7 linked regions of the Homo sapiens genome follow. The protein of the gene in region 6 interacts with the protein of the main gene of each other region in a biochemical or structural test. Each region holds a gene or a part of one and is shown on either strand. Other genes may lie near its edges. The genes, in order: PARD6G, FRMPD2, DLG2, CDK1, PDZRN3, PBK and SYNPO2.

Region 1 (4,568 bases), on a different chromosome or scaffold from region 6:
TCTTTCTCTCTACCACTGACTCACAGAGTTTGAGGTTCAATTTCACCTCCCTCTGAGAGCCGCTTGTCTTCAAGTCCCAGTTCACAGCCACCCATCCCGGGAGCCCCACCCCTGTTCCGCATGGTGCATTCCCTTCCACCAAAACCACAAACCTGTCTGCGTCACAAGGGCCAGGTGGAAGCATCTCGGCCATCCCCACAGGGCAGCAAGTGCTCTGGCCGTGGTGCACGGTGGACTGGATTGAGGCTCAAGCCCAGAACTGTAGGATACAGAGAAGGGCACAGCGGGCCGGGCCCCTCCTCGTAAGGGGCTTATAAATCACTTAGGTAGACCAGGGTTCCCTGCACCAATAAAAGCAAGTGTGTGGACCTCTGCTTCCCAGAAGTCATGTAGTTCTTCCCATCCCTCCTAAGTTCAACAAAAACCCTGGATGTTACATACAAAACAACAAATATAAGATGACGCAGGAGAGAAGTCGCACTAGCTGGGGCCTCAGGACCGGAGAAGCAACATGGCAGCAGCTCCTTGGGTTTTCTTTTAGCCTTGTCATCCCAGACTTGGAGCTGAAGGCACCAGCAACCTGGATGCACCAACAGGCATAGACCAAAAAGCCCCATCAAAAGTCTGCTCTGTCTGTACAAAGATCAGAAAGAGGCAGCCTAAAAGGACGGAACACGTGTGGACAATAACTACCCCACCTGCTGCACCCCACACACAGAGCCTGGACCCTCACCTCCTCAAGGCTAGAATGGGTGCCCAACAGCCCCTGGCTCTGGTGCCAGAGAGACTAAGCAGGGAGTGAGGACCTGGCCTTTGTATTTTGTCCATGGGCCCCACAGTCTTGAGTGGGCCTCTCCTCCCTCAAAACACTTAGGGGCCATCCTAACAGCCCCTCCTCCTGGCCAAGTCCCAACTACTGCAAATCCCTCCCCTGCACTCCAAACCCTCCAACCTGTGAGGGGCGTTGCCTCTGTGATGTGCTCTCCATGTGTCTAAAAGGCTCCAGCTTTTAACTTTCATGGTTGGGTGTTTCCACCGGGTCCACACTGCTCTTCACGTCACAACTGAATGTCATGCCCATAGTAAGAGGATGAAACTGGGGGGTCCTGGGCCTTCAAGGACTTGAGCAGAGGGGAGCCTTGTTTACCCACCTAACAATAATGTAAAATATAATCCTAGCCAACCTCAAATTAAACCTTTTGAAGATATGTAATGGGGGAACCTGCCCCCAATATTTCAACGTAGGTTCTATTTTCCATAAATGTCAGCCAGCTGAGCAAGAGAAAGAGTACAAAGAGAGGAATTTTACAGCTGGGCCACCAGGGATGACATCACCTATCGGTAGGTCCGTGATGCCCACCTGAGCCTCAAACCAGCAGGTTTTTTATTAAGGGTGTCAAAACGGGAGGGGGTGTAAAACAGGGAGTGGGTACAAAGATCACATGCTTCAAAAGGCAAAAAGCAGACGTACTAATAACGGTCTAACAAAGATCACATGCTTCTGAGGGAACAGGACAAAAGGAAAAAGCGGAACCACTGATAAGCATCCAACAAACACAAGGCAAAGGGCAAAAGCAGAACCACTGATAAGGGTCTATGTTCAGCAGTGCACATATTGTCTTGATAAACATCTTCAACAACAGAAAACAGGGTTCGAGAGCAGAGAACCGGTCTGACCACAAATTTACCAGGGCAGAGTTTCTCCCCACCCTAGTAAGCCTGAAGGTTCTGCAGGAGACCAGGGCGTATCTCAGTCCTTATCTCAATCACATAAGACAGACATTCCCAGAGTGGCCATTTATAGACCTCCCCTAGGAATGCATTCCTTTCCCAGGGTATTAATATTAATATTCCTTGCTAAGAAAAGAATTTAGTGATCTCTCTCCTACTTCCATGTCCATTTATAGGCTCTCTGCAAGAAGAAAAATATGGCTCTTTTTGCCTGACCCTGCAGACAGACCTTATGGTTGTCTTCCCTTGTTCCCTAAAAATCACTGTTATTCTGTTCTTTTTCAAGGTGCACTGATTTCATATTGTTCAAACACATGTTTTACAATTTGTACAGTTAACAAAATTATCACAGTGGTCCTGAGGTGACGTATATCCTCAGCTTACGAAGATAACAGGATTAAGAGATTAAAGACAGGCATAAGAAATTATAAAAGTATTATTTGGGAACTGATAAATGTCCATGAAATCTTCACAATTTATGTTCCTCTGCTGTGGCTCCAGCCAGTCCCTCCATTCAGGGTCCCTGACTTCCCGCAATGGATATGTCTTTGCCTCTAAAATTTTAGTAAAGGTTTGTTTTGAAAAAACATGGTGTTGAACTGTTAACCTCCAGGAAGTTGCCAGAAAACATAATTTATCATTTCCACTGGGTGCGCTGGCTCACACCTGTAATCCCAGCACTTTGGAAGGCCAAGGTGGGTGGATCACCTGAGGTCAGGAGTTCAAAACCAGCCTGACCAACATGGTGAAACCCTGTCTCTATTAAAAATACAAAAATTAGCTGGGCGTTGTGGCATCCACCTGTAATCCCAGCTAGTAGGGAGACTGAGGCAGCAGAATCGCTTCCAGACAGCGGAGGCTGCAGTGAGCTGAGATCGTGCCATTGCACTCCAGCCTGGGCAAGAAGAGCAAAACTCCATCTCAAAAAAAAAAATTATCATTTCCGCTTATTTCCTAACATAGCTACCACTTTGTCACCATTTGGACCTGTAAACAAATGTGACTGTTCCCTTGTATTTTTCCTTCTGAGATGAAGGCAGTCATGTCAGCGGCACACAGCCTCAGCTCATGGACACCGTATGGTCAGGTCGGCACCAACACAGCACACCACCCCAATCATGAGTGTGTTCCTCCTCTCTGCCGCACCCCAAGCAGAACAAAGGCCCAGATGCAGGGCTGCAAGTGTCTCTCTCAGCAGCCCCACTGCATTCTGCTAAGCAGGCGACACAGTCTGGGGCACGTGTGCCATGGCAGACACTGCTGGTGTGACCCTCGGTCATGGGGGCATCAGGACGCCTTGTCTCAGTGGAAAATCTCCACCTCCCTTAGAATTTAAAGGCGTCAAGTTCATTGAAAGCGATCAGTTACAGCCTCCTCCATGGTCAGATCTAGTTGCCCCAAACACAACAGCTCCGTGGCAGCTTTTTTACAGCAGCATTTTCAAGTTTCTGGTAAATGTCCTCTGTAGAGAGCGTCAGACAAGCAGGGGAGGTACGTGCCCCTTTCATCCTGTCCTGGCTCCTTACATCCTCAGAGCACGAGACAGTCCACAGGGTCCTCACTCCCCATGTCCACCTTCCCGGGGAACTTCAGGGGAGTGCATAGCCCTCCCTGCAGACCAGGAAGGTCTGGTCCTCCCCCGACCATAAGGGGGCTGTTCTCACAGAAGTCCCTTCAGGGCCCCTTCTCCACACCACAGCCACCTCTTTTGGGGCCCCACAACTGCAAACACTTGAGGATCCAACAAACCAGAGCCCCCTTTGATCTCAGTCGTGCTGGCCAGACCCTAACATCCCATGCTGACCCCTCTGGCCTTGGCCCTGTGCTCCAAGGGAGTTTCAGCGCATCTAAAGGTGCAGGGCTCCGTGTGTCACCGTATGGAATAATTACCACTTTTCAGGGCAAGACAATGGCCAATCAAAACAGTGACAGTTCACAATTACAAGTGACACCCATTGGGCCTCACAGGTCACATCCCTGCTGTGGGTCCTCTGTTGTGGTTCCTGCCTGAGAGCATCATGTTGCGTGTGGACGTGTGTGCAGGATAACACGTGGGCAGTGTTGTGTGTGGACCTGTGTGCCGGATAACACATGGGCAGTGTTGCGTGTGGACGTGTTGCAGGATAACACATGGGCAGTGTTGTGTGTGGACCCGTGTGCAGGATAACACATGGGCAGTGTTGCGTGTGGATGTGTGTGCAGGATAACACATGGGCAGTGCTGAGGACAGGGCACGGCTCTTCATGCAGCAGCTCACTCAGGGCAGCAAGCTTGGAGCAGGTACTCCTGGGGACAGGGACACAGGCTCAGGGATTCAGGGCCCCGGAATGGCCTGGACAGGGAAGGTCTTTTGTGTAACCCCCATGACAGGCAAGGCAGCAGCAACGCTCCACCATGTTTCCAGACAGACTTGGGGTCCTGGGAGGAGGCGCTGCAGAGGGTGGAGCTGGGGCCATGAGATGTACCCAGGCCTGTCCTCTCTTCCTCCCCCAGCGTCTCTGATGCTCTGAGCCACGTAGGGAGGACGACCATGGGAACATGGCCTAAGATGAACGCCCAGGGGATTTCTGAGCAGCAGGGAGTGTATCCCCTCATGGTGCAGCACCTCTCAGCAGCAGGCACACAGACCACCCTGTACAAAGGCAGGTTCTGAACCCCTGGGCCTGGGGTGCAGCTCAAGGACACTCAGGTGAGGTTGATGCCATGGGTTCATAAACTAATTCTGAATGACAGGAGGTTGATGAGCTAAGTAATGTCTACCACTGTCAAATGGCTGTGTAAGCTGAAAGATGAACACGTTCATAGGCAGGGGGCAAAAGAGCCAGTGGCTCCGTGGA
Region 2 (4,568 bases), on a different chromosome or scaffold from region 6:
GAGATGTTTTATTTTTCTAGGAGGGCAGATACTAGCCCTGAATCACATCAGTCTGGAGGGCTTCACATTCAACATGGCTGTTAGGATGATCCAGAATTCCCCTGACAACATAGAATTAATTATTTCTCAGTCAAAAGGTATGTTTTAACCCACTCTTGGGAGCTTAAGAGGCTCCCCTGTTTTCAGGAGTACATGATTACTGTGAGGTACTAGACCTTGAAGTCCACGTAGGTCTTCTATATTGCTTTCCTCATGGTGTTGGCTTGCAAAGAAGCAGTGTAGTGGCACAAATTAATAAGCTTTGCAATTTCAGGGGCAGAATGGGCGTTACCATGCTTGTCTTGCTGAAAGGGAGTAACCTACTCTAATTTTGTTAGACACGGCTGGATACAACCAGTCTTTTTTTTTCTGTCAACTCTCCTTGCATGGCAGGGAGGACCTTTTTATTGCCACCCAAAGTCCTTGTTGATAGGGTCGGCTCCAGGATTTCTATATTTTGTATAGAATCCTATACAAAATTTCTATATTTTGTATAGGTATAGCAATCAGCTGGGGAGGAGACAAGCACTGTTCTTTGTTAATCTTTTGTTTTGGGTTTAGGGCTACATGTGTAGGTTTGTTATTACAGGCAAACTCGTGTCACAGGGGTTGCTATACAGACCATTTCATCACCTAGGTGCTCAGCATAGTGCCCAATAGTTATTTTTCCTGATCCTCTCTCTCCTCCCATCCTCCTCCCTCAAGTAGGCTCTGGTGTGTGTTGTTCCCCTCTTTGTGATCATGGGTTCTCATTATTTAGCTCCCACTTGTAAATGAGAACATGCGGTATTTGATTTTCCTTTTTTTTTTTTGAGATGGAGTCTCACTCTTTCACCCAGGATGGAGTGCAATGGCACGATCTTGGCTTTCTGCAGGCTCCACCTCCTGGGTTCAAGCAATTCTCCTGCCTCAGCCTCCTGAGTAGCTGGGATTACAGGCACGCGCTGCCACACCCGGCTAATTTTTGTATTTTTTAGTAGAGACGGGGTTTCAATATGTTGGCCAGGCTGGTCTGGAACTCCTGAACTCAAGTGATCTGCCCGCCTCAGCCTCCCAAAGTGCTGGGATTACAGGCATGAGCCACTGCACCTGGCCTTTTCTTAAAGCTGAATTTTCGTGGCAAGCTCGCTCTTCTTACTTGATGTGCATGTTCCTGATCAACCTAAAGAGTAAAGTACTTTTTGATGATGCTTTTCTTCATCCTTTAGATAAGAATGAGAGAGCAACAACTGCCTATATTAAAGGAAAATACTATTGTTTTTATCGGGACCAAGCTTGAGGAGCCTGGAGGAAGTAATGGGAGTAGGCTAACATCCCTTCTCCCTAGTTTCCTGAGACCAATGCTGCTTTTTGGTTGGGTGATCCTGTAAACTAACAGCAGACCGCCTGCAAATTCAGGCTCATGATTGCTTCTTCACACTTGAGGGGTGTTGTACAGTTTTCCCTTGTATACAGGAGAACTTCCTGTCACACCAGCCAGCATTTTCTAGGTACTAAATGCAGGCACTGCATTTGCCTTGCCTTCTGAACACTTCTGCATGCATGCTCTCTCACTCTTGTACCTGTACACAGTGCCATGCAGCTCCCCTGTCCAGAAGCTATGGGTGGTGGAAGGTGGCCATGCTGGGGTCTCAGCCCCACACCCTTCATCCTGGGGTTGAAGCCTTCTCAGGGACTGGCCTCAGTACATCTCCAATGCCAGTCTCTGGCTTGCTGTCTGTTGGATTTCCCAGCACCACTGCTCTCCTTTCTGCAGTGGTTCAGCAATCCCTGTGTTTTCTTCCACATCCTCCACTGACAGGAGCAGTCAAACCATCCCATGTGTTGTCAGGAAACACAATGCAGGTGACCAAATCACAATTCAGCATAGTCCAAGGATGGCCTGCTGTGATGGAGGTTGTCAAAAAGCAGTACTCGAGGTCTGCTATTCTCAAACCACAACCTCACATTAGAATTCCAGACAATGAGTTTCCCACAATGGCTGGGAATAAAATGTCCTTTCACTGTGGCACCCCAGCCACCTTTTGGCAATGCTGCCTTCATCATGGTGGGGTTTCCTCATAGCTGGGCCACTGCCAGAGGAAGATGTTTCCTTGGTGATGCTGGCTGGGTCTCCGTGGCAGAGACTTGACTACCATGACTTTCTTCTATCTCTTTAGGCTGCTGTTAAGGCAGCTGGGCTAGATTGGAGATCAGGATCAGACAGATAAAATGTCCATCATGAGCATCTGTCATGGTCTACAATAAATTGAGTTTCCTTTACCAAAAAAGGTCTCCCAGCTCATATGTCTACTAGGCAGGACACCAGTTGCAGCATGGTTTGACTTTTCATTTCAATCGTAAGTCCCATCCTCACCTCTCATGGAGGATGTGGAAGAGAATGAGCCGATGCTTATGACACTGCCAGAAGGACAATGATGACAGAATCTGTGAATGAAAGGGCCAGAAATACAGCATTATGAAACAGTGGCCCTGCCACTCCCTGCTGGATACCTTTAGATTTGAATAACTTCAAATCAAATTCATTAAATCAGATTTATTTAAATTGAATTCATTCAGCATGTGAGTTTGGGCACTTCCCTGAGTGTTAATGAGTCTGTATCAAAAGTAGTAAATCTACTTGTATCCAGGTCTAAAGAAAATCTAACTGTTATTCATTCCTCCCACATATATTTGTGGAGCAGCTAATAATAACATGTTAACAGTAGATACATTTATTGAGGCTCTACCATGTACTAAGCTGTGCGTGTCTGTGTGTGTGTGTGTGTGTGTGTGTATGAGAGCCATATATATATATATATATATGAGGGAATATATATTCTTTCATATATACATATATATTTTTATCTTTCTTAACATATGTAAAATCTTTTCTGTACGTATAATCTCTAAGCCTCACCAACTCTACAATATTATTGATATTGATATTATCTCTACTTTAGATACAGGAAAATTTAGGTTCAGTTATGTTAAGCACCTTGCCCAAGGTTTTTCTACTGATTCACAACCTCACGTTCTTTTCTTTGTTCTATGCCAGGTCACGAGTCAGACACAGGGTGAGCAGGAATCAGTGGCCTAGCTTTCACTCACAGGGGCCTGCAGTTTGGTTATTACCAAGCCTCCCAAAAGGACCTGATACGTTGGTTTTTGGATCACATGGTGGCTGCAGATGTGCTCAGTGGGGTGTCCAGGAGAGGCTGGGTTTAAGACAGTTCCCACATGCTGGCTGTAGCATTTGGGGCAGGACACTTAATAGCTTTGACTCTGTTTTCTCATGTTTGAACTGGGATTACACCTTCCTGGTGGGTTTGCTGAGAAGATGGGAAGATGTCCATATCTTCCTATATGTATATCTAAGGTGCCCATCACATGGCTAGAGCTTAATAAGGGATAGCTGGCCTTATGAACTTCTTTTGAGCCTACGCATTCATAGTTGGGTCACGTAAGCTCTATCTAGGTTTCTAAATCCCATGTAGAATCTTCCCTTTCTCTAATCTAAATGTAACATCTTTCAGGAGGAGCTAAATTCATATTGTACCCGAGCAGCTATAAACGATCACTCTGTCACTGGAGGAAAACGCTGTGCCCACATAGAGATGCCACCAAGAAACCGGCCTTTTTAAGCTGTTGACTTTTTCTTGGCTTGTTTTTATAGGTGTTGGTGGAAATAACCCAGATGAAGAAAAGAATAGCACAGCCAATTCTGGGGTCTCCTCTACAGACATCCTGAGCTTCGGGTACCAGGGAAGTTTGTTGTCACACACACAAGACCAGGACAGAAATACTGAAGAACTAGACATGGCTGGGGTGCAGAGCTTAGTGCCCAGGCTGAGACATCAGCTTTCCTTTCTGCCGTTAAAGGTAATCATCCCTTGGTTTACTTTCTAGATCTGGATGAAAGAGAACAGACTGTGAAGCCCAACAGCCTGGCCCCTAGGCCCTTCCTGTTCTCTGTTTTCCATGTCAGGTGGATGGAAGTTACTTAGCCCCTTTGAGCCACAGCTTCCTCATTTGCATACAGAAGCAAATGCCTGCATGGCATGGTTGTTGAGAAAAACGCATAGAAGAAGGCAGAGTTCTAGGACAGTGTCTGGGCACAGGCTCAGTGTGGGTGCCTCTGGAGTCTTTAGTCACTAATTATAATTGTTGTGATAATAGCACCATGAGGAAATTGATTGCTGCCAATGGCAAGGCGTGGGCAACCAGGCACCTCCTATTCTTGTCCTTGAATTGGTCCTCAAGCTGGGAACTCAGTGGCTTTGCTCTTGACCATACCCCATGGAGGAAGAAGATGGGATCTGGAGTAGGTGTATGGAGGGCTGTGTGCTTCAGTCCCAGCTCTGCTGTCCTCTGCCGTCTCTTTGGATTCCCAGTGGTGTTGTCTTCTCAGGCCCCGCCAGACCCATGCCCCAGCCTCTCCATTCTGCTCTGGGCCCTGCACAGCTGGTGCTCATGGACTGAGTCACCTTGCTGTGTTCTGCTTGGTTCTGCCCAGTCGAAGCCTCAGCAGGAGCCCGCAGTTGTGGGAT
Region 3 (4,568 bases), on a different chromosome or scaffold from region 6:
TGGTAATCCAGGAAGAAAGTTCTTGGGTTTTTTTTTTTTTTTTTTTTTTTTTTGAGACAGAATTTCACCCTTGTTGCCCAGGCTGGAGTGCAGTAGCACGATCTCGGCTCACTGCGACCTCCACCTCCTGGGTTCAAGTGATTCTCCTGTCTCAGCCTCCCTAGTAGCTGGGATTACAGGTGCCTGCCACCACACCCAGCTAATTTTTTGTATTTTTAGTAGAGACGGGGGTTTCACTATGTTGGCCAGGCTGGTCTCGAACTCCTGACCTCAGGTGATCCACCCACCTCAGCCTCCCAAAGTGCTGGGATTAGAGGCATAAGCCCAGCTCGAAAGTTCTTGTTTTTAAACCTCCGGGAACCAGGTGTAAGGCAAATTTCACAAAGTCTGATTACTCAGTGTTCTATGAAAGTATATAGGAATACAGAACTCAGAACTCAGGCTCTCCAGAAGAAAACCTCTATTCCCCTTCATGTTTCCAAGGAAACATTTAAAAAGAAAAAAAAAGCAGTTTTGGTTGAGACTTGACACAGTGAACTGAAACATGAGGAAGTTTTAAGCATCTTGTTCAGGTGCTGCTGATAGGGACACTGATGAAAGCTCATGGAGCTGGGGACGGACGCCTCCAAGCTTCTTCTCAAGAGTAACTGCTTTGGACACTGACCATTTTGAGCCCTAAAATTTTGTTTTTCAAGTTTTCTGATGATATCAGGGAGATAGTTTAATGAGGTAGCAATGCCTCAAATCCTTTTCATGGTAGGAGATAGCTCAGGGGTATCTCCTGCCCATGGTTTTGGGTAGGGCTGGTGGGAACCTGGGAGCTGGCTGCAGCTGAACTCTCAGGAGAACCCAGGGTTTTACATCAAAATGGGTGAAGCAGAGGGATACTCCTTGTATATGAAACAGATATTAGGGATTCTCAACAGGAAGGTTTTAGGGCACAAGTACACCAGGCCCAGAACCCTCTCTGTGCCAAATGTCAGACAATTTATCCCCTTTCTCACACTACCAGGGTAAAAGTGAACTTACCTGTAAAATATTCTCCAAATTCTTGTTCTAGCTTAATTGCTCGATCATAGGTTTTCTTGGCTTGTTCCTCTGTTAGACGCTTATTCATCTCCCTGGGAAAATGAGGGTTTGTATTAGAACATAAAGGGAATATTCCAAATCCTAAAAAATTAAAATGTATGGCAAAAATAAATCCTACAGAAAACATAGTGTAATCTTAGCAACAGGTTTTTAGTCTTCATTCAGGACTCCTCTGTGCTGGAATAATTTCAGCAACAAGGACTCACGGCCAGAAAGCTCATTCTCTCAAAGGGCAGTCTCTTGGTCCCACATTGGATTGAAGCCAAATATGTCTCCTTATGATTTGTAGTCACTGGTCCCTGTTCTGCAGGGACCTAATATCCTCCATGGTAGGCCCTAGGATATTTAAGTAAAGTGCTTAAGTGTGTCTTGAGGCTTCTACTTCTTCAGAATAAACTGTCCTATTGCTTCATCTATCCCCTCATTGGATGTGATTTCTAAATCTGAACTTTCCTGACCACCCTTTCTTGGAGTTTGTTCTAGTGTATCTCAGACTTTCTGAAATGTGAGAGTAGAATGGTAGTTATCAGAGACTGGGAAGGGAAGGCAGGAGGGGAGATGAAGAGAAGCTGGTTAAGGGGTATAAAATGCAGTTATAGGAATATTTCAAAATAGCTAGAAGAGAAGAACTGTAATGTTCCCAAAACATTTCTGGTGATGGATATTCCAGTTACCCTGATTTGATCATTACACATTGTATACAGGTATTAAAATATGACATATACTCCAAAAATTTGTACAACTATTATATATAAATTTTTTTTAAAAGGCTCAAGGATAAATCAAGGTGGGAGAGAAATGAAAAATTCTTGAATTCTCTCTAAAACCTAATCTATTGATTCTTAACTACTGGCAGCTTTATCTTTCCGGGTCTTCCAGGTGTTAAAAAAAAAATGTCCTGCCAAATGCAATTTGGTTGGCTGATCAGGATGCATCACAGGTGCATGTAGAATTTCTGAAATCATTACCGTCTTGCATGCTGCTTAGGAAGCCAGAGATTTGGGTCTGGAACATCTGGCCTTAGTCAATTCCTTTCGAGAGCAAGTAACAGAGGCAAGAAGGGATGTGCTTAAGGCTGTGTATTTAACGAAGAGTAATCTGGGGTAAGAACTCAAGGTTTTGGTTTTTTAAACCAATTTTCAGTTAGACTTCCTATTATACCAAGACTTGATATCTTTCAAAAGAGGCTATTTGGAAAAAAAAAAAACAATATATTGACATTAGACATTAATGGCTGAAATACAAAGTAGTGAGAATTTCCTGAACTCTTGTTGCTAAACTCATCTTGTCCTGAGGGGTGTTATGTATAATTTTTCTTCCAAACAGTCTCAGCTGTACATGCTGTGAATGGATGTTACTCGTGGGTGGAGAAGATGCTGGGCTAAACCAAGGGACACTCTTCAGAGAAAGATAAATATTTGCTCCAGATGTCAAGAAATCATGTGGGCCAGGCACAGTGGTTCACGTCTGTAATCCCAACACCTTGGGAGGCTGAGGCAGGTGGATCACTTGTGCTCAGGAGTTCAAGACCAGCCTGGGCAACAGGGTGAAACCCTGTCTCCACAAAAAAAATACAAACATTAGCTGGGTATGGTGGCACATACCTTTAGTCCCAGCTACTTGGGAGGCTGAGGTGGGAACATGGCTTGAGCCCACGAGGTCATGACTGCAGTGAGCCATGATGGCACCACTACACTCCAGCTTGGGCTGGACAGAGCAAGACCCTGTCTCAAAGAAAGAAATCACATAGTTCTGGATCATCTTCGACCTGCCTTCCAAGAATTCTGTCTTCTCTGAATTCCCTTTTTACTGATTACAGCAATGACTTAGTTTAGGTTTTTATTCTCTGACCTGTGAATTTATTTTGTCTCCTTGACTGATCAGTAATTCTTTGAGGGCGAAGACCATGGCTTGTTTGTCAGCATGTGGCATGGAGACTGATTCAACATTTATTTGTTGAATGAATAGATGAGTAAATGAATGAATGAATGAACAAATGGGGAGCTAGATAAACATAATTATAAGATAGTTGAAGACAGAAGTAAACACAGAGCATCATGGGAGCAGGAAGGTAAAAGCAGATTGGAAGTGGCAGGGTGAAGGGAGATTGCCACATGGAAAGGGAACAGAAGTCAGATGGTGGCACAATATAAAAAGAACATCCCTTTCATACACATCTTTGATTTTATGCTCCTCTGAAGAGTCAGCTATGTATGTGCTAATAAGCTCTGTGATTTGATGTGGATGATGCACTTGAGAAATAATGTGTGTGATGATGTATCAATGTGTAAATGTGACAGCTGTCATGCTTTTGTTCCGGCTGACCTAGCATTCACTACTCTCTGGGGAATGGGCAATTCATGGCAGCTTTGCTCCTGGAGTAAAAGCCTTGGAAAAGAGTGAACTGTAAAGTAAACATCCAACCTTTAGTAGGTAGATTGCATTGGTCTGAATGTCACCATCACTGCACTTGAGACCCATGAATATGGCTGCAGCAAATTATGTCAGATTCACTGTCCTTATTGTGAAGTCCAGCCTTTAGTACATTTAACTTTCCTTGGTGATAAGTGGCTGTGACAGTGCCCTAAGGCATAACTAAAATAAGTCATCTCATAGTTGTGGAAGGCAGTAGACCTTCTCCTATGGAATGCCAGATGGGACTGTCTCCTAATATTGCACCGGACCAAATGTGCCACTGCTGTCGTTCCCTCAGGCCTCATTCCCCTGGGAAGCCATTTATCCCACTGAGTGTTTACAATATGAAGATTTATTTTTCTATTTCTGAAACAGGCCTTTAAGATGGCTGTTCCCAGGAAGTAAGGACTATTTTTCTTCTCATTAATGTTAGCATTACTTATATTTATGAGGCTCTTGACAGATTATAAATCAATTTTACATCATGAAATTTGTACTTGCTTAATTCACTTTGTGCAATGCCCGACATAGTATCCTATACAAGGAGAAATTTAATACATGCTATTGGGGATGATAATATTAAGAATCATTATTTTATCATTAGTACATATTTTTCCATGTGCCAGCCATGGGAAAAACTCTTTATATTATAATTTAATACCTAAATTCATGGGGCTGAAGGTACTGTCAGTGACCTCCCGATCTTACTTTTTTTATCCTGGTAAGAATCCTTGTCCATTTTTTATATATGGGACTATATTCTGCTTTCAAGGTACATCTCTGGCTATTTCCCCAGAGCTCAACTATGTATTTAACTTAATTCTCTCAGGCTGCCACTCCAGCTGCTGCAGTTTGCTTTGCTTCTTTGTCTTCAGAGGAGACACAGAACAGTTAATATCCTCTGTAAGCAATTGCTTTCACCACTGGGATTAAATAATTTCTGTTTCTTCGGTCCTTCCATAAACATTATTTTCCAGTACTCTGTGGTTCACTCCTGAACCCTGTCAAACACTATGGTCTTGAGGCCCAGATGAAGGCAAAATTTGATCAAGGCCCTCATGACA
Region 4 (3,437 bases), on a different chromosome or scaffold from region 6:
GAGATCTGTACCAGAGTGTTACTACCTATTAAAAAGCAAATTTTTACAATGAATAAATGTGGTGCATAAAATTACCTACACTTAAACATTTATATTTTTATTAGGGCTGTCCTTTAAAGGTTGTATGACTGCCACCAATAATATTGTTTAAGTCAATTAAAGGTACACAAAATTGAAGATAAATATTTCATTTCTAAGTTCTATTCATTAGAAGACAAAACAGATAAAAGCATAATAAATATTTTTTTGCTTTTCAAATCACTAAAGATCAAGACAGTTATACAGCCTTATCTTCCCCCCACTGAAAAACCAAACCCATTGATAATAGATTTGGGGTGACACTGAACAAAGTGCAGGTACTGCTTACTTGCTAAGATGGTACTAACAGTACCATTATAACATGAATAAGAAACATGAGAAAGAAATAAAGGGCATCCAAATTGCCAAGGAAGAAGTCAAATTGTCCCTGTGTGCAGAGATGATCTTATATATAGAAAAACTTAAAAGACTCCACCAAAAACTCTTAGAACTGATTAACAAAGTTGCAGTATACAAAATCAAAATCAGCATACAAAAATTAATAGTTTCTATACACCAATAACTAGCTGAAAAATAACATCAAGAAAGCAATCTAATGTACAATAGGTACAAAAAACCTAGGAATAAATTTAACAAATGAGATGTATAATCTCTACACTAAAAACTATAAAACATTGAAGAAAAAAATTTAGGAAGATACAAAAAAGACATCCCATGTTCATGAACTGGAAGAATTAATATAAAAATGACCATATTACCACCCAATGCAATCTACAAATTCAGTGCAATCTCCATCAAAATACCAAGGACATTCTTCACAGAAATAAAAAGAAATCCTAAAATTCATATAGAACCAAAAAAGACCCACAATAGCTAAACCAATCTTGAGCAAAAACAACAAAGCTGAAGGCATCGTATCACCTGACTTCAAAAATGTATTACAAAGCTATAGTAACCGAAACATCATGATATTAGTATAAAAAAGGACGCAGAGACCAACAGAACAAAATAGAGAATCCAGAAATAAATCCATGTATTTACAGTCAACTCATTTTTGAGAAAGATGACAAGAACATTCACTAGGGAAAAGCCAATCTCTTCAATAAATGGTGCTGGAAAAACTGGATAATCCACATGCAGAACAATGAAACTAAACCCCTATATCTAACCATACACAAAAATCAACTCAAAATGGATTAAATAAGACCTTAAACTATGAAACTATTGGAAGAAAACAGAGGAAACACTGTTATTGATATTGATCTGGACAAAAATCATATGGATAAGACCTCAAAAGCTCAAGAAACAAAATCAAAAATAGACAAATGAGGCCAGGTGCAGCAGCTCATGCCTATAATCCCAACACTTTGGGAGGCCAAAGCGGGAGGATTGCATGAGCCCAGGAGTTCGAGAACAGTCTGGGAAATATGCTGACAGCCCCGTCTCTAAAAAATTTAAAAATCAGCCTAGCATGGTGGTGCATGCCTGTGTATGGGCCCAATTACTCAGGAGGCTGACGTGGAAGGATCACTGGAGCCCAGGAGGTTGAGGTTGCAGTGAGCCCTGTTCACGCCACTGCATTCCAGCATGGGTGACAGAGAAAGACCCTGTCTCAGCAATAACAAATAGACAAACAGGATTATATCGAACTAAAAAGCTTCTGCACAGCAAAAGAAACAGAATGAACAGAATAACAGAATAATGCAACAATCTGCAGAATGGGAGAAATTATTTGCAAATCATTCATACAACAAAGAATTAACATCCAGAATAAAAAAAATAGTAAGAATCCAATTTTAAAAATGGTCAAACAATCTGAATAAAACTTTCTCAAAAGACATACAAAGACCAGCAAGTATATGAAAAAGTGCTCAACATCACTATTCATCAGGGAAATGCAAATCAAAACCACAATGAGCTATCACACCCAGTTAGAGTAATTATCATCAAAAGACAAAAAATAAGTGCTGATAAGGATGCAGAGAAAGGGCAACTTTTTACGCACTGTTGGTGGGCTCTTAAATTAGTAGAGCCATTATGAAAAACTGTTTAGAGGATGCTCAAAAAACTACAAACTAGAACTACCATATAATTTTGCAATCCCACTGCTGGGGGTATATGTCCAAAATAAATAAAATCAATTATGTCAAAGAGATATCTGCACTCCCATGTTTATTGAAGCACTATTCACAATAGTCAAGATACAGAATCGACCTGTTTCCATCAACAGATAATGTGGTGTATACATACACACATACAGAAAATGTAGTGTACACACACATACGTGCACGCAATGGAATACTAGAATACTACTCAGCCATAAAAAAAGAATGAAATTCTGTCATTTATGACAACAAGGATGAGCCATGAAATAAGCCAGGCACAGAAGGATAAATACCACATGTTTTCACTCATATTTGAAAACGTAAAAAGTTGATCTAATGGCCATAGAGTGGAATAGTGGTTATTCAGGGCTTAGTAGAGGAAGACAGAGATAAGTTGGTTTATGGATACAATTACAGCTCAAAAGGAAAAATAAGCTCTAGTGTTCTACAGCACTGTAAGCTGACTACAGTTACCAATAATTTACTGTAAATTTTCAAATAGCCCAAACAAAGAATTTTGAATGTTCCCAACAAAAAGAAATAATAAATGCTTGGGGCAATGGATATGCTAACTACCCCAATTTAATCAATACACATTGCATACATGTATCCAAATACCACACTGTACCCCATAAATATGTATAATAATGCGTCGATAAAAAATGATTTTTAAATTATTTAAAAAACGTGAATAAGTCAAATAACAGATTAGTGATCTAGAACTAACCAACCATTTTAGTATATTTATCATATGGTAAAAATATTGCCTGTTAGAACAAAGCTAATGAGGTCAATAGCATTTGTTTAAGACAAAGAAAACAAAATAATCTTAGTTTATTTATATAGCCATGTAAAAAAATGATAAAGACTAACAAGCAGCCAAGACATCTAATCAGATGAGCACTGTTACTAGTTTTGATCTGGAGACAGTCTTTGGGTCAAGGGTAGACAACTCCACAGAAGACAGCCTTTCAATAATCCTTTATTATACAATGTTCCCTTTCCTTCAGAAACACTAAATGCCAAGTCAGCAATATAACACAGATCAAACATAAATTATAGTTAGCAATTCCTAAATGTATCAGAAATAATATACCTTAAGGAACAAAACCTGTCTTTGAATCAATCTGACTATAATCAGGGAGGGTTCAGTCAGGAGACAGAAACCAAGGTGGTGATTTGAATGGGGAGAGTTTAATATAAAGAATTAAAGTACAACAAAGGATGGGAATGATGTAAATAAATAAAGTAAAAAATAATGAAAATGTAAAAACTGTAGCTAGGAAAACTCCT
Region 5 (4,568 bases), on a different chromosome or scaffold from region 6:
ATAAGTCTCATGAGATCTGATAGTTTTATAAGGGGAAACCCCGTTTGCTTGGTTCTCATCTCTCTTCCCTGCTGCCACGTAAGACGTGCCTTTTGCCTTCCACCATGATTGTGAGGCCTCCCCAGCCATGTGGAACTGTGAGTCCATGAAACCTCTTTTTTCTTTATAAATTACCCAGTCTCGAGTATGTCTTTATCAGCAGCATGAAAACGGACTAATACACATACCTAAAGAGATCTACTACTGGATTGCCCTAGATGTGTTGCTGGAGCCATTCTAAGTGGATCAAGAGTGCCACCTGGGTGAGTTCATGATTCCTCCTGTGGAAGGAGTTATTACAACACAGAGGTTTCTGAATCAGATTACTTGGGCCTGAACCCCTCCCTGCTTTATCACCCTCCTTCTGGGCCTTTCCTGGGTAACTTTTGAATCTCTGGGAACTTCCATCTCCTGGGAAGGCTCTCCTGTGTGTAAAGTGCTCCACGGAGGGCCTAGCACTTATTCGGTGGTCATATCAGTTTTAATTATTTATCATTCAATGTTTCTTTTAATTTGAAAGAGCAAGTTTTAATTCCCCATACTCTGCTATTGTAAATGAAACCTGCACAGATCAAGGCTGGAACATATGTCAGGCCTTGGGAAGTCAAATGTCTTGACGTGACCCCGGTTGTGTTTTCCATTCAATTCTGTTTCCTTTTCCTTCCCTATGATCCCTGCATTAATGAACGTCGTGGGCCTGCAGTATAGATGCCAGGGTGGGCATCTAACCAACCTTAAATGGCTAACTCATAAAGTGAATTCTGAATCACAGCAAGTTTGATTACATTTCCAGGGAACAAAGCACCTTCAAGTTCGCAGCCAATACTCAGGTGCTCTTTTGCAGGCCTGGGGATCTTTTGATTTTAGAAATATAGACCCAGTTTCATCTGTAGGAAGCCAATTTACCTGGAGTTCAGGCCTTGCAATCAGCAATGAAAAGTTTTTATTTTCTTCACTGGTTAGAAGAGCCACAGCCTCTTCACGGTTCTGCACCTCTATCCCATTAATCTTTTAAAAAAAAAGGGGGGGTGGGGAGAGTGGGGAGACAAATAGCATGATTAGATGGTGCAAAATCATTCTATTTTATTTCAGACCTGCATTTGTCACCCACTCACAGTTAGAACATACAACTTCCGTGTAGCTGGAAAAGAATACTGATGTTAGGAAGGAAAGGTCTTGCTCAGACCAATGCAGTTTCTCTGGTCTATAAGGGAGCCTCCATGAGTATAGTTCATGAGGTGACTGTGATGTGTGGGGTGTGAACAGAAGGGGCTGGACCTCCAGAAGACGGCACTGAGAAAAATCATAATGCTCTGCAGAGGGAACATGGAAGCAATTAGACATAATATTCAGGCAGGAGTATATGTAGACATTATTGGATAATATAGAAGAAAAAGCAGCAAACTGAGGTTAAGAAAATGGAATAGAATTATACATGGTGTTTTGTGTCCCCAGTTTGACACTTAAACTTCTTTGGGCCAGGCGGAGGGTCAAGTGGGCGTGACACTCTCACTATCACACTTGATTAACCCTCTTGCAGGATTTTTGCTTGCATGTCCTGGTGACTTTGAGCCCTGCTGGTCTGGAGGTCTTAGTCCTGGTGGAACGCCGCCTCCAGGGGACACAGCAATGGTTCCACTGAATTGGAAGTGGAGGCTTCCATATGCCTCCTTACACTAGTGAGCCAACAGGCAGCAAAAGGGGTGACTCTATTGGTTGGAGTGATTGCCCTCAATTACCAAGGAAGATGGGCTTGCTGTGACACAGTGGAGGCAGGGAGGATTGTGTCTGGAACCTAGGGGATTCCTTGGAGTACCTCTGAGTGCTTCCATTCTCAGTAGTAAAGGTTAATGGAAAACTCCAGCAATCAAAAAAAAAAAAAAAAAAAAAAAAAAGAGGCAGTATGCTGAGGACCCTGACCCTTCAGGTGTGAAGGTTTGGGTCACTTCCCTAGGGCAAGCGATCCTGAGCAGCACAGGTTCTGGCTGAAGGCTAGAGAAACCCAGAGTAGGCAGTGGAAGAAGAAAATCAAAATGACCTGTGGTGAGGTATGCAATGAGAAAAACACAGTGGATTAAGAATGAGAGGATACGGATGAGAAGAGGTAGAAAGCTAAGCCTTGTGGACACAATGAAGCCAAGAATTTCAATTCTGTGAGATTAAAGAAGGTTGTAGCCAAAAGAGACATGAATGGTCTCATTTGGACTAGACGGAGCAACAGGGCTCGAGGTCAAGTAATGACCCTTAGAAGCGATTCCAGGATGGTTAGATGTTGAGTCAGAAAATTTCTAAGACTTTTCAATCGATGCTGCTAAATTTGCCAAAAATGTTCCCCTTTTATGGACGAGCCTCTGAAATGCTTGGTCCAAAGTTAATCTTTCAGAGAAATCTAAAACGAGAATTATTTTAGTTCACAAGTTGTAAACTGTTGGCCTGACTTTGGCTCACTGATGTTTGTTTTGATCCAAACAGAATGAAACAAAATAAGGAGAACTGGCTCAAATTTTGCAAGGCCCTCTTTGGAGAGAACATGCCCCATCTAGTTTGTCCCAGTCCTCACCACTCCCTCTTGCGTCTTATGACTCAGAGATAGCCTCACAATTAGTTTAACTTGTCTGGCCTCACTACACATCTGCGTTTGTGATCCCTGTTCTTTAACCGCTTCTGCATTTTCAACCCTAGACCTATCATTAGAACCAGTTTGTTCTTTAGTGATAGGCCCATCATGAGGCCATTGTTTGGAAGTGGACTTACCTGGATAATGCGGTCTCCTTCTCGGATGCGCCCATCCTTGGCTGCAATGCTGTTAGGGTCAATCTGAAACACACATGGACCATCTCAGCGCAAACGCAGACATGCATGAAAATAAGCAACAGCACTTTCAAAACCATTTCTAAAACACAGTCATGCTCACCCCTGTGTTTCTGTTTTGCACAGAAATAAACAAGACTTAGTGTCGTGCAAGGAGAGGCAAACATGAGCTGATCTGCTTCTAAGCCCTTTCTAGGGCTGGTTCTTGGATCCCTGTGTAGCAACCCTGTTACACAGCAGTGTGTGCAGGCTCTGCTGATCTGAGGAGGCACAGCTGACTTTTGTTGCATGCATGGTAATTAAAATCAAATCAATGATGTAGAACAGGTTAAAGGATACCCTTCATTATGTGGACTAGCAACTATACCTTATTTTATACCAAATACTTGTATTAAAATTTGGAAAATAACTTTAAAATTGAAATATAATTGGGACAAGGGGGACTGGTAAGGGGAGGGATGTCCCCAAATGCAGAAAGGATGGGTTAACTTAAGCTTGGTGAATGACATACAACCAAAGAGATAATTATTAAGTCTAGTAGATCATTCTGTAGCGACAAATTTTATTTCCTGACAAAATTGGGTTTCTGTGTTTGCAAGGATGGGTGTGCACTGTAAAGTTTCCATACTGAAATCAGTTGATTTGTATTATCTTCTCAAGGAAGATCAAAACAGCGTGCATCTATGTAGTTTGATAAGTACATACAAGTCACATTTAACTTATATGAAGTCAACTATATATACTCCACCAAGAGAAAAAAAAATGTGTGTGTGTGTGTGTGTGAGAGAGAGAGAGAGAGAGGCTTTAAAAAGTGTAAGTGATTCCATCCACCATTCCACTCAATGAACACGAGTTGGGAAATGTGAATCTGCTCTTCCCTTGGGGCTAAACACACAAAACCATGTAAACGGCTCCATTTTATGGCTGATTTGCAGGCTTCTCAAGGGTAATTTTGCCATAAGTACTGGCATTAGAACTTAACCTCCGTGGAAAGATGCAGCGCCATGGAGTGTGATGAGGGGGACAGAATAATTTGTGTCTTTCCAAAGAGATCTTGATGAGGTGGGTTAGGGTTGGTGAACATGAAAAAAAAAACCCTTTTGGTCTTGATACGATAGTTAGAAAAACAAAATCAGCCTTTGTACCTCACTGATATAAATCCCAATGTCGTCTTCATCGTCCGTCCGGTAGCACACAGTGAGGCCCAGCTTGTCCTGGCTGTTCATTCTGTAGAGGTCCACTTCCTAGACAAAGAAAGGCATTCCCAGTGAGACTCCAGCAGGCAATGCGAGTTGAGGGGATGTCAAATGCTTTAAAAATATTATCTTCAAATGAGGAACTGGATTTCTTTGCATTCAACTGTGTAGGGCCGGTTAACTTACTAAACAAAAAGTGATTATGGACACAGGATCAATGCCTACGGCATTTCTGACCTTTCACTCAATATAAAGTCATTTTGAAAATAGTTATTTCATTGATCCCCCAAAGAAAAATTACCCATATTTCACTCAGCGTCAAGACTTCTGGGGCAGGGCTTTTCAAAAACACTTTTTCAATGTCTGCCACAAACAAGAATATTTCCATACCCCAAACCACCCAGCCATTTCAGTACAAATGTTTCCAATGTGTTTGGTTAGATTATTTCACATTGCGTTCCCTTAATATTCACAGTCATAGAACTTGCAAACAGATTACACATAAATTGATCCAAGAAAGGA
Region 6 (4,568 bases):
TTTATACTCTGTTTATCTCACTGGATATATTTATGCCTATAAATATAAACCCGTATAATTTATGGATATATGGTATTCTATTGTGTGGTAGTATAAATTAAACCACCCCTTATTGGTGGACATTCTCACACATTGTTGCATAGTCTGTTCTGCTACAATGTGTATTTTTGAAACAGTAAAAAGATTGATATTTTTCCCAGTACATAAATGTTATTTTTGAAGTGATCAGAGGCAAATCTCACAAATAGAAAGCCTTTGCCTACAGAAATGCCTTCCCTGAGCATATGCCTGGTGTAGTAGCTTTAAGAATTGCTATTGCTAACTACAAAAGCTGTGAGTGAGTCCAGGTAAAGGAGCTGCCAACACATTTCCCACACGCTTAAAAATATATATATATTTTTAGTGAGAAAGCCAGATCAAATTTTTCATCTTGATGAAAAGTATCTATTGAAAATACTCTCATATGTAACCTTCAGCATAAACCCAGGGTTTATGGCTACAAAGGAACATTTTATCATCATAGAAAGTTTCACTGAACAGCACTGCTCTAGAAAGTCTTGCTCCGGCTCAGAAATGACACAAGTCATTTCTTCTGGTAGAACCTTTCAGACGACAGTTTGGAAATCTGCATTTAAAATAAGAAAAATATTTTAAAATGTTTATGCCCTTGCAGATTTAATGTGTTAGTATCTTTTATTAGGATTATTAACTGTTTTTGTTACTGCTTTAGTTTTCAAAGTTGCATAGGTTTTAACCCTGTTTTTTTTTTCTATAAACCTAGTTATATCTTGAAACTTTTGCGCAATGAAGTTTTGCAGGAAATAATATATCAGGTTATTATAAAAAAAATGCCTGTACTGCCTAATTACTCAATTACTTCTTTGGACTGTGTTCTTAAGAATGAAACTATAGGGTCAAAGGGCATAAACATTTTTAAAGGTTTTTCTTATTTTAAATACAGCTTTCCAAACTGTCACCTGAAAGGTTCTACCACAAGAAATGACTTGTGTCATTTCTGAGCTTGAGCATTTAACTATCACTGCAAGACTTTCTAGAGCAGTATTGTTCAATGAAACTTTCTATGATGATTAAATCTCCTAAATCTGCATTGTCCAATGTGGTAACCATTAACCACATGTAGCTTCTGAGCACTTGAATTGTGGCTAGGGTGGCTGAGAAAATAATTTCAATGTTTTAATATTAATGTAAATAGCAACATGCAGCTCATAACTACTGTATTGGACAGTACCACTCCAATGCTTTTTCACCCTCCCCATAATGGTGGCCATGTTCCATATAGTGGCTGTTCCATCAGTATAAGTCCTAAAGGGAGAATGACACAGAACAAGGTGCTAATGGCCATGCAGCTTGAGTAATAAGCCTTGGTTGTTGTAAGTCACTGAAGTTTTTGAGGTCTGTGTTACCACAGCAAAACCTATTCTAACCTCAGTAAAACAGCAGTTACAAGTTCTACTTAGTGTATGAGAGGACATGTTAACCTACATTGTTGCTCATACTAGCAATCTTTTTATTTACTAGCAATCTTGTTACTCCTTCAATAATATATTTACAAGTCAGGCACTATTCTAGAGTTGAGGATATTTCAGTGGACAAGATATACAAGGTTCCCTTCTTAGAGCTTACAAGCCTAATGGAGGAATGGAGAAACGTTTAACAGATAATTTACACAGTGTGATGAGTGTTGATAGCAGATTATCTCATTGTTATTTAGCTTTTAAAACATTAGTAAGAACATTACATATATATTTTCCTAATTGCCATTTTTTTCATTTCTCAACAGTCTCTTCATAATAGAGCTTTTATCTGTTTCTCATTGATTACTAATAACTCTTAATGCATTAGAAATATTAAATATCTTATACATTTATCTCAGTTTCTAATGTCTTAAGCTCCCTGCCCCTCTCCAACCCACTGTGATATAGAATTCTTTTTTTTTAAATGGAGGTACCCATGGCTTTTTAATGATGGTTTCTAGCTTTGGTGTCTTCTTTAAAGTCCTCTCCACAGCCAACATTAAAGAACTATTTATCTACAATTTTTTCTACTGTTACTTTTTCCCCCAATCTTCAATATATGGGGATTCAAGTGTAAGGATAGAAAACAGCTGTGTTTTTTTCTAAAATGTCCAGATAACATCATTTACTGACTAAACTACCTCTTTTCTCACTAATACAAAAATGTCACCTTTATCACACAACAAATTCCTCTATTTGGGAACTATTTCCTGACTCTCATGTTCTATTTTTCTGCCTATTTTGGCATGAGTATCATCGCTTTAATTACTGTAGCTTTATAAAACTTTTTATCTGCTCAGGAAGATTCCTCCTCCTTTCATCGAGTTTTCCCAGCCATGTTTGATTGAACATGTATCCTCAAAGAGGAACTTCAGATTAATTCTGACATGTTCTAGAATAGATCACATTAAGATTATGTAGAATTTATAGGCTATCAAATTCATTCATTTCTGCTTTCTGTTCTTAGGGCGTCATTTTTTTCAATTTCAGTTGAATATTCAACTTAACTTCATAAAAGTTAAATAATGAAAATGTTTCCTTTGAGTAGTTTTGAACATATCAAATAGGGTTTGACTTGTTATATTCTTATATTTTCTAAATATTTTATAAATGGAATTTGATTTCTCTTTTTAGCCAAAAATTATTCGGAAGTGTTTTAAATTCCTAAAAAGTTTGGAGTTTTTGTTTCCTATTTTATTACAAATTTCTAGATTTACAGCATTGATGTTAAGGAATATCACCTATTAGACTATTCATACTTTTTATAATTCGAAGTTTTTTTGTGTGATCTAAGAATATGGTCAATTTTAATAAATATTATGGTGCAGAGGTACTTGCCTTACTATTTACTCAGATCTTTAACATCCTTACATTTGTCTGTTTGCTCTATTAAGCATTGAGAAAAATACTTTAAAAACCCTCATTTTTATTATGTTTGACAATTTATCCTTTTACTTTCTAAAGTTCCCATTTTGTAAGTTATTTAGCATAAGGTTTCACAACAGTTCTATTTTTATTAATGATTACAGACATCATTTATTTATAAAGTCTGTCCATTCATTCTGACTCTTGCCTTCAACTCAACTTGTAAACTTTTACTTCAGCTAGAAATTCAGGCATTTATATGTTCTAAACAGCATTTATTAACCATTTGTTTAACTTCTGTTGATATAAAGAGACAAATTTAAGTATTATTTACTAAATAATATGTTGCAAGCAGAGGCTTTCTCTTGAGGCTGGCTCTTGTTTCTCACCAAGAACATATCTTAAATTCCCTGAGAAGCTATGCAATAGAGAAGAAAGGGCAAAGAGCCAAAGACCAGCCTTCATTAGCACCCCTCTTTTCTGCTTCATTCCAGTTTCTTCTACCAGTTTCCTAAATCTTGTCACTTTACTCATGCTAAATAAACCGCTTTACACAACCTTACTAAATTTTACTTTCTATTCCCAGATGCTTTACTGCTTAAAGATCCCAATCCAGTTAGAAATATTTCCCAAAGATAACTCCAGTTAAAATATATACTAATACTACTACTAATAATAATACAGTAATTTATACTGTACATGTGGCAAGGGAGAAGACTGCAGGCTGACTGGGAGAGAGAGAAAAAAAGGGGACTTTTTACCATATACTTTTTAAAAATAGTTTTTGATTTTTGATCCATGTGGACTTACGTATTTAAAAATGTAAACACTGTATTAAAAACAAAATTTTAAAACTTAAGAGTACAACTTACCAGTCATATTTTCATCCAGTGGTAGAGAGACTCCTACATCACAGATTTTAATTGTTTCAAAATCGCCTTTAATTACAACATTTGAAGACTTTATGTCTCCATGAAGCAGTTTCTTTTCTTGGTGCAGATACTAAAATAGTAAAAAATTTAACACATATGTGCAGAAACACAAACTAATAAAAAAATGTGATAACCTCCAAATATAACAACTTGAACTCCCTTCCTAAACTCTAGGTTTACATTTGTCCAGCGTTTCAAAATTTTTTTTTTTTTTTTTAAAACGGAGTCTCACTCTGTTGCCCAGGCTGGCATGCAGTGGCACGATCTCGGCTCACTGCAACCTCCGCCTCCTGGGTTCAAGTGATTTTCCTGCCTCAGCCTCCCAAGTAGCTGGGACTACAGGCGGGCACCACCACACCTGGCTAATTTTTGTATTTTTAGTAAAGACGAGGTTTCACCATGTTGACCAGGCTGGTCTGTCTCGAACTCCTGGCTTCAAGTGATCCGCCTGCCTCAGTCTCCCAAAGTGCTGGGATTACAGGTATGAGCCACTGTGCCCAGCATTTCAAAGTATTTGAAACAAGAGAAGGGAACATCCCATGTTATCTCAGTCTGCCATACTGACCAGAAGTCTAAAAGTTTATTTAGAAATAGATACTTCTGCTAACCTTTTATACTTATAAAATAAATAATTATAAGTTAACTATTTTTTTCCAAGACAGAGTCTTGCTCTTGTTGCCCAGGCTGGAGTGCAGTGGCGCGATCTTGGCTCACTGCAACATCTGCCTTCCAAGTT
Region 7 (4,568 bases), on a different chromosome or scaffold from region 6:
TTCTGGCACAGAACCAGGACATTTTCTTCTGCATCCCCACAGGCAAATGATGTGAGTGTTCCCCATGGACCAGGCCAGTCCAGGCTAGGAGCAAGGGAGAGCTGGCTGGGGTCAACCTGGGGCCTCTCTGAGGGGGCAGATGGATCCTAGTAGCTACACACTGTAGGTAGACAGCTTCCTAAGGGAGCATATAGGATGAGTCCAAAGTCACTCCCTAGAACAGAGAAGAATTAGCATGAATCAAGGACTAGAGGTAAGATGTCCCCAGTGATGGGAATCTTTCAATATCCCATAAAAATGTCCCTCTCTGGGCCTGTCTGGCCCCAAGAGTAAGAGGCCAGAACATGATGTTGCCAAATCAAGTAAAAACTTTCTTCTCCTCTTTTATTCTACTCCTTTTTTTCCTCCAACCCCAGGGGGCCAGAAGGCAGAGTTAGCGACCTGAGAGAAGAAGTGGAAGTAGAGTGAAGAAGTCAACCACACTCCTTCCCTGAAGGAAGGCAGCCTTTCTGAAGCAGGCCCCAGCTGGGGAAGGAGAGGAGATTTAACTCTAATAAAGTTGAAATTGGAGTTTGTTATTTCAGGGGATGGCATCATCTATTTCAAAATAAAACTGGTTTGAGTAACTTAAGGTAACCATTGAACTCTTCCTAAAAGTAAGCAAAATGTCCCAGGATCTGCTAAGTTTTCTTCCAGTGGCAGCAGAAAACTTTTTTTTATTAAATAAAGTTTAAAAGGTAGTGGGAGACAGAAAGAAGCAATTTGATGGGTAAAGCTAATTTAACATCTTGGTTACAGTTAAGTGCTCTCATATAAAAATATTAAATTCCCTTGATGATGATATAACCCATGGTGGAAGTGACAACCCAGGACCTAATCCATGCTATGCTAGGATTCCAGCGTCAGACATTCAAACTCCAAAACAAAAGAAACACCTCTGTTACTTTCAGGTTCCTTTGGTCGTTTCTGGCTCAGGGTATATCACATGGCTTCATTCAGCCAGCCAAACAGAGAACAGCCTGAGCCTTGAAACTGTGATGGACAGAAGGAAACAGCACCAAAAAACACTGTGAAAATTGCTTTGGGGAAATACATTAAAATTAGAAGTATGGGTGCCAGTAGAGGCTAGAGGCTTGCAATATTTTGGACACAAACAGAAACTACATTGTACCTATGGAATGATTTATTTATATCCCAGTTGGATCTCTAACCTAAAATGGTTTATCATCTTATCCTCTATTACTAGCACTTGAAAGAATGTGAAGGCATGTTCGTCAGTCTGGGGAAATGTAGAAGAGCCATGGTCATTTTGCTCATTGAGCTGGTTGCTCTTCTTTCCTCACTGCTGTTACATTTGTCATATGCATGTTTGGCGTGAGATTTTTGCTTTCAGCTTCAATCCTAGGTTTTAATTTCCCTTCAGAAAGCCCTGGCTTACTCTTTCAATACCATACCTCAATATTTTAGTTTTCTCCCTGCATATTCATCTCTTTGTTAATAGGATATCACTGAACAATATTTTGAACTTTATAAATTCTGTCAAGTTTCAATTCTTCTGAATATTTTCAAACTCAGTGCATAAGAGAAACACCAAAAAATAATTCCTCTCTTTCATGTAATGTTTTGGATGTCTTATCACTGCAATGTATGCTTTCACATAGTACTTAATACTCCCAAGTATATTGATAATTATTTCTTTTTCCAGTTATTAGCCAGTAAATTAAACACCTGTATATATGTTCAGGGGCCTCACCGAGATTTCTGTAAAGTCTTAGCTCCCTTTATCTATTGCCATCCCCTCAGCCTTCTATCTTTTAAAATACCTAAATAACTGACTAAAGCAGTCCCTCAAGGTGCTACATCTAATTGATGCAGGATTTTTTTTAGCCTCTTTGCCAGACTTGCAACAGGGGTGCCCTGTTTACTCAGCTCACTGTGCTCAACCCCTTGAGGGAGGGAGCACATGAGTGAGTGAGTGTGGGATCTGGCTGGCCACTCCGGGCGCCAGCAGGAGCAGACTTCATGTGTGGCCCACAGCGGTGCCCAGGTGGGGGTGCTTGCGACCCCAAAGCCCCAGAGGGAGCGTTACAGTGCTCTCTTAGTTCTGCCGTCCACAGACGGTGGTTTGTTAGCAGCTCAGTTGGCCTCTTGCCTCATTGTGTGGGGTGGCTGCCCTTCATCCGTGAGGGCAAAGGGCCGGTGTGATGGCCTTTTTGGGTACCTGCACTCGGTGGGTCCCAAGCTCTTGTCCGGCGTCCAGGAAGAATGAGGTCACACAGACAACTGAAGGGCAGAGAATTTTACTAAGCTACGAAAATGGCTCTCAGTGGAGAGAGGAGCTAGACAGCGAAGAGGATGGGCAGGTTGTCTTCCCCTGAAGTCAGGTCATCTCTTCTGTAGTCTGTCCATCTCCCTCGAAGTCCAGCTGTCTCTCTGAAGTCTGGCCGTCTCCTCTAAGGTCCGGCCATCTCTCCCTCTACCGACTGAGTCTGGGGTCTTTATAATAGGCACACGGTGTGGGTGGGGTGGGCCGCAGGTAGTTTTGGAAAAAGCAACATTCCACTGGTAAAAAGACACTATTCACAAAGAACCAATCAGGAGAGAATGGGCAAACAGGAATAGAAGTTCTCACTTTGGGCTGTAAGTTTCAGACTATTTTGGCTTGAAGGTGGGGTTTCACCAGGGATCCACCTCTGTCTGCCTAGAATTTGTCTGCCTCCTGCCTCTATCATAATCAAAGACCACACAAAGCAAAATCATGGGACTCTGAAAACTCTCCCAGGGCCTCTGTAGACCACTGTTGTTCTAATTCTTCCACAGAAAGGACAAAAGTGATATACAGACACACACCACAACAGACAGCTACATTTCTCTTTATCACACTGAGTCTTACCACTTCTCACAGTTTAGAAAACTTCCTATTTTTTCCTGTCAAGACAGTTAAAGAGTCTCTTCTCTATCTTCTCTAAACTGATCTTGTTTCTTATTATTTATTTATTTATTTTTTTTTTTTGAGACAGAGTCTTGCTCTGTCACCCAGGCTGGAGTGCAGTGGTGTGATCTCAGCTCACTACAACTTCTGCCTCCTGGGTTCAAGTGATTCTTGTGCCTCAGCCTCCTGAGTAGCAGGGATTACAGGCCTATGCCATCACACCTTGGAGAATTCTTTTGTATTTTTAGTAGAGATGGGGTTTCACCATGTTGGCCAGGCTGGTCTTGAACTCCTGATCTCAAGTGATCCATCTGCCTCAGCCTCCCCAAGAGTTGGGATTACAGGCGTGAGCCACTGCACTGGCCCAAACTGGTCTTCTGTAATTGACTTAATTCAGCTACTGTGGGGCTAAAACTAGTACTGGATTGTGTGCTTATTGAGGGCAAGGACTTTATCATCTTTAAGTCTTCAGCTTATAGAAGAATACCTGGAAATATTAGGTGTACAATATGTTAATTTATGTTAAATGAGTCTATGAAATGAACACATACATAATGTGAAATAGAAACTAAGGCCTTAAAGGTGACTAAAAGTCAGGATTCCCCACACCTCACCCAAATATAGAGTAAGGAGAATTATGAGTGGTTCTGAATTAAGACAAGATTAGTGAAAGCAAGTTTTTGCTAAGATTCAACCATTGTAAGTAAAATTTAAATGATTAAAATGAGAGAATCAAGATTTATTATATTGGACCCCTTATTCTTCAGATAGAAACCAGGAATGAACCATCTACCTTCTTTGTGTACCTAATAATAAAAAAAAAACGAAACATTTGAATCTGAGATATTTTGCCTAAATCCAGGTATTGATATTCACTTTAAAGTTAAGAACTTGATTAAGAGAAAAGCTGTTGAAACTGTTTATGAAATTAGAGCACATTTTTAAGCATGGTAATGTTTTTTGTTAGGAAACAGGATGTTTTGATACTTTCAAAGTTGATACTCCTGTCCCCTAGGTGTACCCTTTCTGCGTTTTTGCCAAGAGCTTATCTCACACAGCCTCATGCATATTGGAATGTGTGAAGATGTAATGTGGATAGCCAGCCATCAGCATTCCTAGAAATGCAGAGGAGTAAAAGGAGAGAATGAGAACACAAGAGGTTTCATTAAATTATATTGCTGTAGCCAGGCACCGGGGCTCATGTCTGTAAGCCCAGCAACTTGGGAGGCTGAGGTGGGAGGATGGCTTGAGGCCAGGAGTCTAATACCACCAGCCTGGGCAACAGGGAGATCCTGTCTGTAAAAAAGATTTTTAAAAATTTAGCCAGGCATAGTGGTGTGCACCTGTAGTCCCAATTACTTGGGAGGCTGAGGCAGGAGGATTGCTTGAGCCCAGGAGTTTGAGGCTGCAGTGAGCCATGATCATGCTCTGCACTCCAGCCTGGGCAACAGAATGAGACCCCAACTCTATATAATAATAATTAATAATATTCCTGTGTTATTAGTCAAGCTGAATATTAAGTATACACAGAGGAATGTTGCAGGGATACAAACTCTCAAAGAAATAGGAATGTAATACACATGAAAGGAAGCAAAATGCAAATTAAACAAGAGGCAGGAGTAATTCCCTCAGAGAC

The links.
Region 1: the proteins of PBK (region 6) and PARD6G interact in a test that uses a peptide from one of them, tested with the Homo sapiens proteins (one large-scale study listed by IntAct).
Region 2: the proteins of PBK (region 6) and FRMPD2 interact in a test that uses a peptide from one of them, tested with the Homo sapiens proteins (one large-scale study listed by IntAct).
Region 3: the proteins of PBK (region 6) and DLG2 interact in a test that uses a peptide from one of them, tested with the Homo sapiens proteins (one large-scale study listed by IntAct).
Region 4: the proteins of PBK (region 6) and CDK1 form a complex in vitro, tested with the Homo sapiens proteins (2 studies listed by BioGRID and IntAct, with this or other methods).
Region 5: the proteins of PBK (region 6) and PDZRN3 interact in a test that uses a peptide from one of them, tested with the Homo sapiens proteins (one large-scale study listed by IntAct).
Region 7: the proteins of PBK (region 6) and SYNPO2 interact in a test that uses a peptide from one of them, tested with the Homo sapiens proteins (one large-scale study listed by IntAct).

Annotation. Positions count from the first base shown.
Region 1 is NC_000018.10:80,163,425-80,167,992, forward strand, and holds part of PARD6G (partitioning defective 6 homolog gamma), read right to left. Parts: intron 1-4,568. UniProt on the Homo sapiens protein: Adapter protein involved in asymmetrical cell division and cell polarization processes. May play a role in the formation of epithelial tight junctions. The PARD6-PARD3 complex links GTP-bound Rho small GTPases to atypical protein kinase C proteins.
Region 2 is NC_000010.11:48,180,135-48,184,702, reverse strand, and holds part of FRMPD2 (FERM and PDZ domain-containing protein 2), read left to right. Parts: intron 1-20; coding exon 21-137; intron 138-3,694; coding exon 3,695-3,900; intron 3,901-4,568.
Region 3 is NC_000011.10:83,460,973-83,465,540, forward strand, and holds part of DLG2 (disks large homolog 2), read right to left. Parts: intron 1,122-4,568; coding exon 1,030-1,121; intron 1-1,029. UniProt on the Homo sapiens protein: Required for perception of chronic pain through NMDA receptor signaling. Regulates surface expression of NMDA receptors in dorsal horn neurons of the spinal cord.
Region 4 is NC_000010.11:60,788,478-60,791,914, reverse strand, and holds part of CDK1 (cyclin-dependent kinase 1), read right to left. Parts: intron 26-3,437; coding exon 1-25. UniProt on the Homo sapiens protein: Plays a key role in the control of the eukaryotic cell cycle by modulating the centrosome cycle as well as mitotic onset; promotes G2-M transition via association with multiple interphase cyclins.
Region 5 is NC_000003.12:73,387,023-73,391,590, forward strand, and holds part of PDZRN3 (E3 ubiquitin-protein ligase PDZRN3), read right to left. Parts: intron 4,095-4,568; coding exon 3,996-4,094; intron 2,857-3,995; coding exon 2,794-2,856; intron 1,048-2,793; coding exon 946-1,047; intron 1-945. UniProt on the Homo sapiens protein: E3 ubiquitin-protein ligase. Plays an important role in regulating the surface level of MUSK on myotubes. Mediates the ubiquitination of MUSK, promoting its endocytosis and lysosomal degradation. Might contribute to terminal myogenic differentiation.
Region 6 is NC_000008.11:27,816,793-27,821,360, forward strand, and holds part of PBK (lymphokine-activated killer T-cell-originated protein kinase), read right to left. Parts: intron 3,903-4,568; coding exon 3,773-3,902; intron 2,869-3,772; exon of another isoform or gene 1-2,868. UniProt on the Homo sapiens protein: Phosphorylates MAP kinase p38. Seems to be active only in mitosis. May also play a role in the activation of lymphoid cells.
Region 7 is NC_000004.12:119,052,157-119,056,724, forward strand, and holds part of SYNPO2 (synaptopodin-2), read left to right. Parts: intron 1-4,568. UniProt on the Homo sapiens protein: Has an actin-binding and actin-bundling activity. Can induce the formation of F-actin networks in an isoform-specific manner.